Linked DNA regions of Homo sapiens. The protein of the gene in region 2 purifies or fractionates together with the protein of the main gene of each other region. This does not show direct contact. Each region holds a gene or a part of one and is shown on either strand. Other genes may lie near its edges.

The links. The genes of interacting proteins can lie anywhere in the genome.
Region 1: the proteins of CMIP (region 2) and P2RY1 purify together in Homo sapiens (affinity purification with mass spectrometry; 2 studies listed by BioGRID and IntAct, with this or other methods). This does not show direct contact.

The regions. Positions count from the first base shown.
Region 1 is NC_000003.12:152,831,301-152,838,130, reverse strand, and holds the start of P2RY1 (P2Y purinoceptor 1), read right to left. Parts: upstream 3,001-6,830; 5' UTR 2,349-3,000; coding exon 1,227-2,348; 3' UTR 1-1,226. UniProt on the Homo sapiens protein: Receptor for extracellular adenine nucleotides such as ADP. In platelets, binding to ADP leads to mobilization of intracellular calcium ions via activation of phospholipase C, a change in platelet shape, and ultimately platelet aggregation.
Region 2 is NC_000016.10:81,699,789-81,706,810, reverse strand, and holds part of CMIP (C-Maf-inducing protein), read right to left. Parts: coding exon 7,010-7,022; intron 5,152-7,009; coding exon 5,011-5,151; intron 4,190-5,010; coding exon 4,142-4,189; intron 2,873-4,141; coding exon 2,726-2,872; intron 1,313-2,725; coding exon 1,207-1,312; intron 1-1,206. UniProt on the Homo sapiens protein: Plays a role in T-cell signaling pathway. Isoform 2 may play a role in T-helper 2 (Th2) signaling pathway and seems to represent the first proximal signaling protein that links T-cell receptor-mediated signal to the activation of c-Maf Th2 specific factor.

The DNA.
Region 1 (6,830 bases), on a different chromosome or scaffold from region 2:
TTGAGATGTAAGGTTTATTCAAAGATTATAGCTTCCCATTCTATCAATGCAACCTATACAAATTCTATTTCTTCTTTTCATATCGCATTTTGTGTTTTCAAACACTTGGAGGAAGCAAGAGTCTTCTCCACCATGACTTTAATTTAAACTAAAGCCCTCATTCTAAAATGTCTTCTGCCCACCCCAGTTGCTTCATACATTTGAGAGTATACTTGGAGGCTATGCCTTGTGGATGACTGTCAACCTCTCCTTTTCTGAAATACTGTCCTCCTGTCCAATATCCTTCAACTTACTAACAGTTATTTGACTTTACTCAATCTTTGGTCTGTAATTTATTTGCAATTCTTAAAATTGTTTTTACAGATGTGAGTGAACACTTGTCCTGGAACACAAACAAAGTCCTAAGGCATTGCACAGCAGTGGGGCAAGTAAATGCTCTTTATCACAAGATGTCTAAGAGAGCTCATGGTGTTTACAAGGAAAATACATGCACTTTAATTATTTTGAATGCATTTTACCAGTACGATAATATATGCAGGCTTTCCCCATCAAACATTTAGCACCCAATATATAATGAGACCTTTTCCAGAAATAACTGGAAAACAATCACTTTTCAGGCTTTTAAATTCATTAGCTTTACTTGTCTATTCAATGCCCTAAAGAAACTCAGTCAACTATCATCTATGCTTATAAGACACTGAAAAAAACACCCCGCTCAGAGATCCATTGATCTGATGCCGGATGAACTGATGAGTTTAGTGTTTTGTTATATACCATGCTAGATATTTCTGAGAATATAGATTTTTTATTCCTACTGTGGATTTTAAAAAAACAATAAAGGCTAGATAAACCACAAACTCAAGTTGCAGGGGGCTAGTTTTCTTAGAGAAATTACTAATATCAAAAACAGCCCCAGTACTCATGTGCACACACACTTTAAACAGAAAAGCCTGCACATTTTAAAGGCAAAAGAGAAAGTAAATGTTTAACTAGGTAGTATTGTTTTATTATACATACTTCTAGTCAGAAGGAAGAGAGACTGTGAAAGCAAACCCAAACAAGCTAAGTGTGGATGTGGGCATTTCTACTTCTATTATTTTTTTAACTCACTATTTTCTTGGTTTGATTTTTTTCTAAACTAGAAAGTTAAAGAGGGGAAAAGTACTTGATTCTGTTAAGCATCCTACCATATTACAACAGAGAGGTGTTTGGAGATTCTTGTGCCTTCACAGGCTTGTATCTCCATTCTGCTTGAACTCAGGTAAAATATTGAGGGTCATGTCTTCACTCTTGGATTGCAAATTTGCCTCACTTCTTCTAGAAGCTTTCCTTGTGGCTCGGGAGAGTCTCCTTCTGAAAGTATCTCCCGCCAAGAAATAGAGAATGGGGTCCACACAACTGTTGAGACTTGCTAGACCTCTTGTCACCTGATACGTGGCATAAACCCTGTCATTGAAAGCACACATTGCTGGGGTCTGAAAATCAAGCCGGGCCCTCAAGTTCATCGTTTTCATCACATGGAAAGGGATGTAAGACACAGCAAAAACAGTCAGTACAATGATTACCAGGTAAATCGATTTTCTCCTCAGAGGAGAGTTGTCCAGATCTTTGTAAATCAAAGCTCTCACAATTAATCCGTAACAGCCCAGAATCAGCACCAAGGGGACACAGAACATGGCCACGGTCGTGCACATGCTGTAGATGAAATAACTTCGCAGGTACTCGTCTGAGGTGGTGTCGTAACAGGTGATGGTTTTGTTTTTGCGGACCCCGGTACCTGAGTAGAAGAGGATGGGGGAGATCGCCACCACCACAATGAGCCACACCAGCACGCTGATACAGATCGCATTCTTCTTTTTGAGCCGGCCCAGGGACTTGAGGGGGTACACCACACCGCTGTACCGGTGGGCACTGATGCATGTCAGAAACAAGATGCTGCCATAGAGGTTCACATGAAAGATGAACCTCTGCAGTTTACACATGGCATCCCCGAAGATCCAGTCTGTTTTATTGAAGTAGTAGAAGATCAGGGCTGGCAGAGTCAGCACGTACAAGAAGTCGGCCAGAGCCAAATTGAACATGTACACGGAGATGCCGCTCCAGGGCTTCATGTGGAAGACGAACATCCAGATGGCCACGCTGTTGCCCAGGAAGCCGATGATGAATACCAAGATGTAGACAGCCGGCAGGTAGTAAAACTGGAAGCCCGTCTTGGTCAAGGCGCATTTGAACGACGAGGAGACGGCGGCAGTGGAGGCGACCGTGCTGTTCCCCCAGGACGAACCCGGACCGGCCAGGAAGGCAGCGTCCGTCCCGTTGGGGACAGCCGGCCACAGCACCTCGGTCATTCTCTCCTCCTCGACTTAGGCGGCGGCTCCGAGGGGTAGGAGGCGGCGAGAGGGCAGCGGCGGCCAGGGGCGCAGCAAGCATCGGAAAAGCCAGCGAGCGGAAGGGAGCAGGCGAACTGGATCCCCGCGGGAGGGGGCGCGCAGGGGCTCGCCCACGCCAGCTCTGGCCCCGCGTTCGCCGCGGGCCATGAAATCCGCCCCGGGCCGCCACCGAACTGGGCTATCGGGCAAGCCAGCAACTTCTCCGTCCGCTGGCAACGCCGAGCTTACACAACAGGGCGCGCAGGGAACCGCCGCGGATAACTTTCCGACTGCGCTTTCCCGAGGGGCCGCGGGTCCGCGCTGCAGAGCGCGCCAGAGGCGCAGCGAGGTCAAGGGAAACTCGCTCTGCAGGGCTCTAGCTTGGGGAGGCTGCTCCCCAGCCTCCTTGGCTCAAAGATCAACTTAATTGGGGGCATCTTCCTCCTCCCTACCTTAGAAACGTGCAGCTCAGTTTCGGGGCGTCTAACCGCTTCCTCCGCCCACCCTGAGCTCAGCTCCTGGCAGCCATCGGAGCGCGCGTGGCCGCAGACTCGTGCGCTTCTGCAGCGCGTCCCGTTCGGCGTCCGCGTAGTTCAGGAACCCCTTCCCCAGGCCCAGCTCTGTCCGGAGTGCCGGGGTTAGGCGGGAGAGCGGAGCTCCCTAGAGGGTGGGCGGAGTTTGGGCACCGGGGCGAGTCCGCACTCCGCGGGGAGGCGAGGGGCGTGCCTCCGCCGAGCTCGCCCAGCAGCCAGCCCGCGTCCTCCAGGGCGCAGTGGGAAGCAGGAGGCGTCTTCTGGGGAGCAGGTCTCCGCCGAGGCCGAGTGTGTTCAGCCTCTGCCGGCACGCTGCTACCGGAGTCGGCGGCGAGGGAGAGGGGTGCGCTCCAAGGTGGCTGCTGGCAGGCGATTGGCCCGCGAGCGCTCCTTCCCTCTTCCGCCAGCTATCTCGGCAAAGTGAAGTTGCTGACACACAGGAAACCCTTCCGACCGCTTAGAGCCTTCTGCCTACAACCCCAGAGCCGACCAGTCCGTAGCAGGAGCCTCTAGGGCCCTCGAGAACCACGCCAGGTGTTTTCAAGCTCCAAGCAGCCAGGAGTCCCTAGCTGGGAACGCCTGTCATTGCAGAGCGTCTAGCTTTGCCGGGACCGGATTTCTGGCACATGCAGGAACCTGCTATTCCAAGAGGGCGCGAGCCTCCAAAGGAATGAGGGTTGGGAGAGGAGTGGAGAACTCTGTTTCGCCCTTCTTACCTTTTTTTTTCTTTTTTTTAAATTCTAGTACTGTTTTTTCTTAATTACCCAAATGCTAATAAACCCACGTCATTAATAACATCAACGTGAGAATTTCCAAAATAGTCTTGTGAAGATATTACTAGTCCATATTGCACATTGCTTCAGCTCAAATTTGTCGTCATAGATACTTAACACCTATCAGACAAGACAAGCTCCCCAAATCCTCCTGTTCAGTACATTTAAAGATCAGAAGCTACAATGAAAAAAAAAAATTCGAAATTTATCCCTTTGAAAGTAATTTGAATGCCAAATGCAATACATTTATATTGATAGACGTAAAAGACGGTTATAATTCCAAAGTGACTAAGGTATGGTTTTGGTAGGGGGTGGCGGGGGGAGGGGGGTATTTCCAATTCTATTTCTTTAAGTTAAAGTGATTAGTTACAATTACCTCTAGTATCTTAAAAATACAGACTTGGGACTTCCTTAATTACTACATTTACTGACAAACTCGTTTTCTTGCCTTGAATGTAAATTTTAAGCAATGCACTTCAAAAATGTATTTGAGCAAGTTTAATTGGAAACTAAATGAAATATTAGCTGTTCAGGAACATATATAAATGGACCCGCACAAGAATGGAATCTAGCACTTCTTGACAAGTTACTAGTTAATGTATTTTTACATGACACATTAACAAAAGCTTTTCTCTTAGAGGAAAAAAAATCCAAAAAGAAAATATCTGTAAAATATATAACATCAAGATTTCTTTCTGGTCCCAGATGCTACATGATAGTGTTCCCTTAAAAAATAAAGGAAAACCACGAGCTCCTGGCTTTGATACCACAAAGGAAAATATCCCCCACAAGATCCAGATGGTTCTTTAGAGGAACACATATAGGAAGGAGCATATCTTAGCACATGGTATGAATACACTGGGTTTTGAATTGTAGTCAATTGAACAGCATAAAAATTAATAATAAAACAAGAGTAAATAATTCAAGTAAACAGTGTGAATGAGGTTGTCTTGAAAAGTCTTACTTTTTGTGTTTCCTTCCAATCTCCTGATTATATGAGTCTATGATTCTGAGCCTTAACATGAAACATTTGTGTATTGTTTGATTAGTATGGTCCTAGGTGGGATGATTGTCTATTAAGAGAGAAAAGGAAGCAAAGAAAACCATTAAGGGTTCCAGGGGTACTCAATAGGTCTTAAGTCCTCACTCCTTTGCATTTTTTATTTGCAACCTAGGCAATATCTGACTTCACTCAGAAGTTTGTTGCAAATGCATTAACTCATAATGTGAGTGTTTTGAAATGTACACTTAGTCCAGATACCATTAAGTACTTGCAGAAAACTGACACCTTACTAGGAATTGGGGGATAGTTGTTTTAAGTGCACCACAGACTTTTTAAAAAATGATGTTAAAAAATAAATTTTGGGCTGGGCGCTGTGGCTCACGCCTGTAATCCCAACACTTTAGGAGGCCGAGGTGGGCAGATCACGAGGTCAGGAGATGGAGACCATCCTGGCTAACACGGTGAAACCCCCTCTGTACTAAAAATACAAAAAATTAGCCGGGTGTGGTGGCGGGCACCTGTAGTCCCAGCTACTCGGGAGGCTGAGGCAGAAGAATGGTGTGAACACAGAAGGCGGAGCTTGCAGTGAGCTGAGATCGAGCCACTGCACTCCAGCCTGGGCGACAGAGTGAGACTCCGTCTCAAAATAAATAAATAAATAAATAAATAAATAAACAAACTTTGTAAGCATTGCTTTTGCATTCAACATATTTAACTACACAGTTATGTTTCAGTTATGCTTTAAATCAAAATTTTGCCTTGTGGGAATAAGTTACATATATTCAGTAATTACTATAACTTTCTATTTGTAAAACATTCAACTATTATTAATGAAGAAAAAATCTAAGAATCATTATTCACATTTGAACATCAATTATAGATGGCTTAAAGACATGATAAAAAATTCTTACATATTTAAGTGACATCCCTAAGCATTCCATGTTAATTTTTTTTTTTTTTTTTTTGAGACGGGGTCTCACTCTGTCGCCCAGGCTGGAGTGCAGTGGCGCAATCTCGGCTCACTGCAAGCTCCACATCCCGAGTTCATGCCATTCTCCTGCCTGGCGTGGGACTACAGGCGCCCGCCATCATGCCCGACTAATTTTTTTGTATTTTCAGTAGAGACGGGGTTTTCACAGTGTTAGTTAGCCAGGATGGTCTTGATCTCCTGACCTCATGATCCGCCCGCCTCAGCCTCCCAAAGTCCTGGGATTACAGGCATGCATGAGCCACCGCGCCCGGCCTGCCATTACTTTTAATGGCAGTCTTGGACTCATAAACAAAAAGGTTGCCCTTCTTATGCCCTTATATTTAAGTAGCAGTGTAAGAACCTGACTTCAAGAGATTTACAATTTAGTTGGAAATGCAAATAATATATATAGCTAACCATAATAGTAAATATAACAATAGCAATAAAAATAGGCCTTTGCTGTACACTCAAGTACTGTGTACATGTAAAAAGGATTATCTCTTTTCACCCTTAAAATATGCATGATGATATTTGGCCATTGTATTCCCATTTTATAAGTGATGAAACTAAGGTACAGGGAGGTTAAGTAATTCACCCATAGTCACACAGTAGATACTGGGATTTAAATGTAGGCTGTTTGTCACTGAAGTCTATGCATTCAGCCACTATCCCATGATGAAAAAAAGCAAATACGGGGCACTGAGAGAAACGTTAACTTTTAGTGGCCAGCACAGATTGCGTTTAGAAAGCGTTACTCCCAGAAGCCTTCCCTCAGGAGAGAAAATTCTAAGCCAGATATTGAAGTTATTGATAGTCAAAGAGTATTTCAGAAGCTTCTAAATATTCCACTTCTCTACATAGGCTTCTTAAAAACAGCCAGCGATTTACCTATAATCTGAGAGAGAAAATCACTGGGACATCAGATCTGTTGAGTTTTAGACTCATAAACAAAAAGGTTGCCCTTATTATGTTTACAAAGATTTTTATCACCATATTTAGAAAATCTCTATTTTCTTTTTCTTTAAGCCACAGAAAATCCAACAATCATTAAGAATGGGAAAATCATTGGAAAAATTCCAATTGAGGGCCACAGGCAGAAAAGGGAAAAAGAAACTTCTCATAAACATAAAATATGAAATCTCCCATCTGAGTAGAGACCAAAAAACCATCAGATTTGACTAA
Region 2 (7,022 bases):
AGAGCCTTCGTTTTCTTCCCACCCTCTGAGCCTCCCTCCCTTCTGGTCCCTCTGTCGTGTGCCCCCACTGCCTGGACCTGATGTCCCCAGAGCTTGCCTGCCACACCCCAGATCAGGCCCGAGGCCTCCCCACTAAGGGAACCCCGGATGGTCCCCCCGTCGTCATTGACTCGGTGCTGCTTCTTGAAAGCAAGCCTCAACCTCTGGTTTGTGTTGGAGTCGCACGGGGGGCAGACCCCTCCACCCACTCCCAGAGACGCTGAGCAGGGCCGCAGCAGGGACCAGGAATCTGTGCTGTTGATGAGGACCGCGCCCCCCCGGGGGACTCCAGTGGAAGCAGCGCATCTGCATTTGCAGCCAAACTGGCCGAGCGCTGCCGCTCTGCCTCCACTGACCCAGTCACCTGCTCCCACCTCCTCCCAAGCCACCCAGCATTTGCCAGCGGCCCGGTAGGAGTCATGGCCCCTGCTCAGGGTGCCTCCCCCTTGGCCAACTCCCACAAATCTGTCTTCACACCCAGACTCAACAGCACCTCCCCGGGAAGCCTTTTCTGACTCTTCCCACTGAGCCACGGGTCTTCCCGTCTAAAGCAGTGGGCCTGGAAAAGGGAAAGCTGGTCAAATACAGAATCCCGGGCTCAATATCCCTGAGGCTAGTTCAGTCACCTGGGGTTTGGCACACAGGAACTGGCCTTTCTAGGTTCCTTGAGAATTCTGTGCCTCCTTCTATTATGACAGGGCTTCTCAAATGTCAACGGGCACGGGAGCCTCCCAGGCATCTGCTTACCGTACGGTGTCTGAGTCAGGAGGTCTGGAGTGGGCTTGGGAATGTACATTTCTGACCAGCCCCCAGAAGACGCTGCCACCACTGGTCAGGGGACCACAGTGGCAATGTACTACAGCCCCGTCCTTGAACTCGACCCCTCAGTGGACTGTGAGTGTCAAGAGGCTATGGGCTGGCCTTACTCATTTTTTCTATTGCCTCTAGAATATAAGCTCTCTGAGGTTAGGGATATTTTTCCCTGTGTTGTTCCTGGCACATGGAATGGTGCCTGGTCCACAGCAGGTGTGCAGTGAACACGTTTGTGAATGAACGAATTTCTCTATCTGTGCATGGTGCAAAGTCAGTGCTTGGCCAGTTTGGCTGAAGCAAGGAAGGAATGAATCAAGCGGCCCCTCACCCCCCAGCTGCCCCGGAGGCACTCACAGCTCAGGGCCAGCAGGCCAGCGTCTGTGACCGGGGTCTCGCACAGGTTCAGCACCTGGAGCATGGTGAGGTGTTCCGACAGGAGCCGAAGGCCAGCGTCTCCAAACTGTAGAGCACAGAAACTCTCAGCCCTCTCCCGGCCACTCCTGGGGAAGTGACTCTGAGGCTGGGGCAGAGGTGGAGGAAAGGGATGGGGACAGAGCCTGGCTCTGAGGCCCATGGCCCACCAAGCCCTGGGGTCTGGGCTGCGTTCACGTCCCCTAAACAATCCCACGCCTCTCTGAACCGGGTTAGAATCCAGCTTCTGCTGTTGGGAGTGGAGCCAGGCCAGGGCCCCCTTGGAGTCAGTTTTGCCTCCATGAAGGAGGGCTTTGAACTTGTCTCTCCCTAGCTTCGAGATGCTGCCTAGGTGGCTTTCTCCTGCTGGGTGGACAGTGGAAGGACAGGGCTGGGCCGGGGGCAGGCTGCAGGGACTGTCCCCAGTTTCTCCTCTGGAAAATTAGGGTGAGGGTAGAACCTGCACTTCACAGGTGTGCAGTGAAGGCCCCTTCATCTGCCCTGTGCAGAGTACTGAGCAGTGCAGTTCACACTGAGCTGGGACTCAGCAGCCACTGGTGTTACTATAACAAAAAGACCCAGAAGCCTCCTGCGCAGCCCCCCGCAGGCCAGCGAAGCCTGGCTCACGTCTCAGCTCTACCTCTCAGAACCTCAGGACTCGGAACTGGGCACATTATTTCCAAATGGGAAATGGGCTGCAGGGCTTCATGAGGTCCTCAACCTCCTCTAGCCTCAGGGAGTGGGTGCTGAGCTTGAGGGAAGGGTCGTGTGGTAAGCAATGCCTGGGGTGTAGGCAGGGAAGCGGGTGAGGGGCAGGGAGGAGGGTGAGGGGGCAGGGAGGAGGGTGACGGGGGCAGGGAGGAGGATGAAGGGGTAGGGAGGAGGGTGAACGAGTTAGGGAGGAGGGTGAGGGGACAGGGAGGAGAGTAAGGGGGACAGGGAGGAGGGTGAGGGGGCAGGGAGGAGGGTGAGTGGGTGGGGGGGTGAGGGGGCAGGGAGGAGGGTGAGTGGGCAGGGAGGAGGGTGAGGGGAAAGAGAGGAGGGTGAGGGGGCAGGGAGGAGGGTGAGGGGGCAGGGAGGAGGGTAAGTGGGTAGGGGAGGGGGAGGGGGCAGGGAGGAGGGGGAGGGGGCAGGGAAGAGGGTGAGGGGAGCAGGGAGGAGGGTGAAGGGGCAGGGAGGAGAGTAAGGGGGGCAGGGAGGAGGGTGAGGGGGCAGGGAGGAGAGTAAGGGGGACAGGGAGGAGGGTGAGGGGGCAGGGAGGAGGGTGAGGGGAGCAGGGAGGAGGGTGAAGGGGCAGGGAGGAGAGTAAGGGGGGCAGGGAGGAGGGGGAGGGGGCAGGAAGGAGGGGGAGGGGGCAGGGAGGAGGCTGAGGGGAAAGGAAGATGGTACGGGGGAATAGGGAGGAGAGTGCAGAGGTGAAGGAGGAGGGTGTGGGGGACTGCAGCAGGGCGGGAGGACGTACCTGAGTGGACCACAGGTTCAGCTGCTTGAGCGAAGGCAGTTTGATGAGGTGCTCGGCGCAGGCACTGGTTACATTGGTGAAGGCCAAACTGAGGTTCTCCAGGTTTCCGAAGGAGCCGGAGCTCAGCAAACGAGCCAAGTCAGCGTCCTGCGGGCAGACGGGGGAGAGGCCTGAGGGTGCTGCTGGGAGTTCCCGAGACCCTGAGCCCTCCTATCCCCTATCCTCCTCCTCTCCCCTCGCCCTACAGAGAGCTGTTCCTGGGGGGCGGTAAATCCCAGGAGCTGAGATGGGGGCACAGCTCGGTGGGATGGGCCAAGGGGGTGGCCAGAGAGGGAGGGGCTGCCACGCATCCCATGGACGACAGCTGCCAGGCGGAGGAGAAAGCCTCCAGTGCTGTGACTCACACCCTGAGGCACCAGCGGGGTGTTCCAAGGCCACGATCCTCCCACAGGCGTCTGTGTGTGTGTGTGTCTGTGTGTGTGTGCCTGTATGTGTGTATATCTGTGTGTGTCTGTGTGCACGTTTGTGTATGCATGTGTCTGTACATGTGTGTGTCTGTGCACGTCTGTGTATATTTGTGTGTGTGTGTGTTGGTGTGTCTCTGTGTGTCTGTGTCTGTGCATCAGGGTGTGTGACTGGCTGCCTCACTCCTGGGCAGCAGCTCATGCCAACACTGAGGCCACACTCAACTCTAATGCCTGAAGACACCAGCGCATGCCTGAGCACCGGACTGGGAGGTTCCTAAGACAACCTCCACACTCCCCTCCATCCTTGAGTGTCAGCGGCCCTGTGGCTGCCCGGAATGAAGGCTGATTTAGTGTGTGGCCCCACACACTAAATCTGGAAAATGGGATGTAAGTAGACATGTCAAGTAGAACTTCCAGGAAGTTTCTTAAGAGGAAGGGGCACGTTCTCCTTCCTGCTGGCTGGAATGGAGACAAGAGGTCTGGAGCCTGAGCAGCCCTTTTGGTCCAGGAAGTAGAAGCCATGTGTCAAATATAATGGGGGCATCAGAATAGAAGGAAATAAGACCCTTAAAGACCTTGTGAAATGCGAATGGTAAGATACACAAGCTTCCAAGGGTTGCTGTGAGGATAAAACAAACTAATAGAAGAGCATCTGACACACAAATGCTCAAGGTATATCTGCTATTATTCCAAGTACTATTAATAACTAGATATCAACACTATTATCACCAACAATCTGTATCATATTTTAACTTCCTTTTTGGTTTTCATTTCTCTTCCTGTAACCCAGCTACCTCCTGGAAGAGCTGGCGTGTTAAGTACTAGGGGGTCCTTGTGCCCCGCCCTCCATCACCTCCCATCTCAGCAGCAGACACCACCTGCCGTTCCCCAACAGAGAGGACCAACCCACCTTCTCCATCCAGCCCCAAAGAGAACCAAACCAACTCACTGTGGACTTGGAGGGCAGTGTTAGCCTGGTGGGCCCGCCTTTCCTTTGCTGCAACAGAAACCAGGCTGGTTACAACCATTCTTTTCCCCAAGTTTCCATTCTAGACTTCCACCTCTGTTAACAACACTCATGGAGCCATCGTTATTTTCTTGGTGGTACAAGGCAACACGGTGGTCTTGGTCTCAGGGGCAAACCCGGAGATGAGGTTTGAGCACAGGTGGTTTACTGGAGGGTGATCCCAAGAAACACCAGTGGGAGAGTGGGGAAGTGACACTGTGGCTACCTATAATGGAAGGGGTGTTATCAATCCAGCTATCACTGGGTGGGTACTGGCACCAAATCCCACCGGGGGACTCTAAGAAATGGTGGAGAAGCCATGTCTCAAACATATCTCACTGAAGGGGTGAGGGAGCTGGGGTATTTCTACACACTCTCCCCAGAAGGGACTGGTTGAGGGCTGCTCCAGGAGATCAGAAGGCATGAATTTCCTGCCCCTTCCGTCCTTCTGTGTACACATGTGTGAGTATATGCATGTGGACATACAAAGTCCTTCAGCAAAGAGGTGTGGGTGCTGGCATTTGGAAGTTGGGTCCCCCATGTACTGAAATGGAAGGGTCTAAGGGACATGGAGGAGGGAGGGTGGGCAATGTCCTGGCCAGGCCCCAATGAGCTGTGTGACTCTGGGGATTGCTTTGCTTCTCTTTGATTACCTGAAAAGTGGCAGGTGGTAATACCAATTTCTGGGGTTTGGAGGAGAATTCAACGAGATTGAGGTCCACTCAGGTCCAAGTACTAGCTGCCCCGCATCCCGCCCTGGCCCCCCCTGGCCTGCTGGGCAGGGGAGTGGTCCGGAGCAGCCGGGGACTCACCAGCTCCTTCAGCTCCCGCTGCCGGTCACACAGCTGCTCGTACATGCGCTTCCCCACGTCTGTGCTCTCCAGGGTTGAGATGATCTGCAGTTGGGTGTCGTTGTTGTCGATGATGTTGTATTCCAGCATCAAGCACAGGATCTGTCCAGAACCGCAGGGGTGCATTACGGACCCGGCCTGCCACCCTAGCTCAGCACACTCTGTGCACCCCAAGGGCCTTGTTTTGAAAACCAGCAACCCCACTATCCCCTTTCTGCAGCCCCGGCTGTGTAAGCCTGGGCAAATCACCTGCCCAACTTCCTGCTTGTACAATGGTAGCACCAGTGACCACGCACTGAGGTTCTCCAGGTTCAAATGTCAATGGACATGGGAGTCTCCCAGGCATCTGCTTACCGTGCGGTGTCTGGACATGGGGCAGGCCCCCGGGGGATGTTTGCAGGCCCCTGAGCACTGGTGGAAAGGCCAGAAGTTAAGACACCTCTCTCTCCCCAGTTCCTTCCCCAGTGGCTGTCATGAAGTAGGTGCTCAAACTCACGGAATGGCTCAGAGCCCTGGGCCCATCTACCACACAGCTTCCTAGAGGGCCTCATGACTGCACATGTGGCTCTTCGGCCTGGGGGTCAACACGCCTGACAGCCCTGCCTCTGACATTCCCTTTCCAATGACGATTTTTTTTTTTTTTGAGATGAGGTCTTGCTATGTTGCCCAGGCTAGTTTCAACCTCCTGGGCTCAAGTGATCCTCCTACCTCAGCATCCCAAGTTGCTGGAACTACAGGTGCATGCCATGGTGCTCAGTTCTAGAACTTCTCACTCACCAAGGAGCAGGTCACTCAGCCCACGCTTCTCACAGCGCCTCTTGCCTGTCTCCTGTCTCCCTGCTCAGCCCTCCCCCATGGCCTCCGAATCCCTGTCACAGGACAGCCAAGATTAAATCCAAACTCCTTCCCAGCACCTCTAGGTACCCAGAAGGCTCTTCATGCCCATCCAGCCACATCCCAGACCTCTTGCCCCTTGGCTCCCTGTGTTCCAGCCACCCTGGCCTCCAGCAAGCCTCCGCCCGGGATGTCCCCACAGCCTGCTCAGCTCCCACCTTCCCGCTGCCTCTTCCCCAGGGCTCACATCTGCCCGAACTCTCATTTCCACGGGAGCTCCCATGGCTTTGCTGCGCCTGCCAACTCTTCGATGCTCTTCCCACTGAGGGGTGAAGTCTAGCTCCCACGGCTTTGACTGAGGGCCGGCCGCGGTGACTCACTGCCAGCAGGAGGATGTGGCAGAAGTGATGCCGCCTGCCTTCCAAGGGAGGCTAAGTTAAAAAGTGACATGGCTTCTGCCTTGGTTCCCTTGGGACAGTTGCTCTGGGAGTCTCAGGCTTCTGGGGACTTTGGGACAGTTGCTCTGGGAGTCTCAGGCTTCTGGGGACTTTGGAGCGTGCAGGGAGAGAGAGGAGCAGCAGCAGGTGAGGGGTGACCTGTGGGGCTGGGTGTGTGTGTTCTTGGCAGGTGGACAGGCTACCTGGAGGCCACGAGGTGAAGGGTGCGGCTGGGGAGCCCCAGCCGCCAAAGCCCTCATTGTCTGAGGCCTCTTAGGCCAATGCGAGAAGCCTTGGGGCTAACCCAACCTGGCCCCATCTGACTGATGAGGCCCCAGGTGAGAAGTGCGTAGCTGCGCCCAGGTACCCCAATGCCCATGTGCAAAAGAAATGAACGATCTTGTTTTAAAGCCCTCACTTAGAGGTGGTTTGTTACACAGCAATAAATGAGCAGAACAGAAGCGTCCCCAACCCCACTGATCAATGGATCAGCTGGATCACAACAGAAACAAATACACTGCATGATGAAGGCTCGAGGCTCCCACTAAGCTCAGGACGGCTGGGACTGCACGCCTCACCCACTGCCCCCCGTGCCTGCAGCAGCTCCTGGCTCCCAGCAGATGCTCTATCGGCACGGACAAGGGACGGGGAGCCAGCCACCCCACCAGGGACCCCGACCAGCTCCTTACCTCCACCATGGTC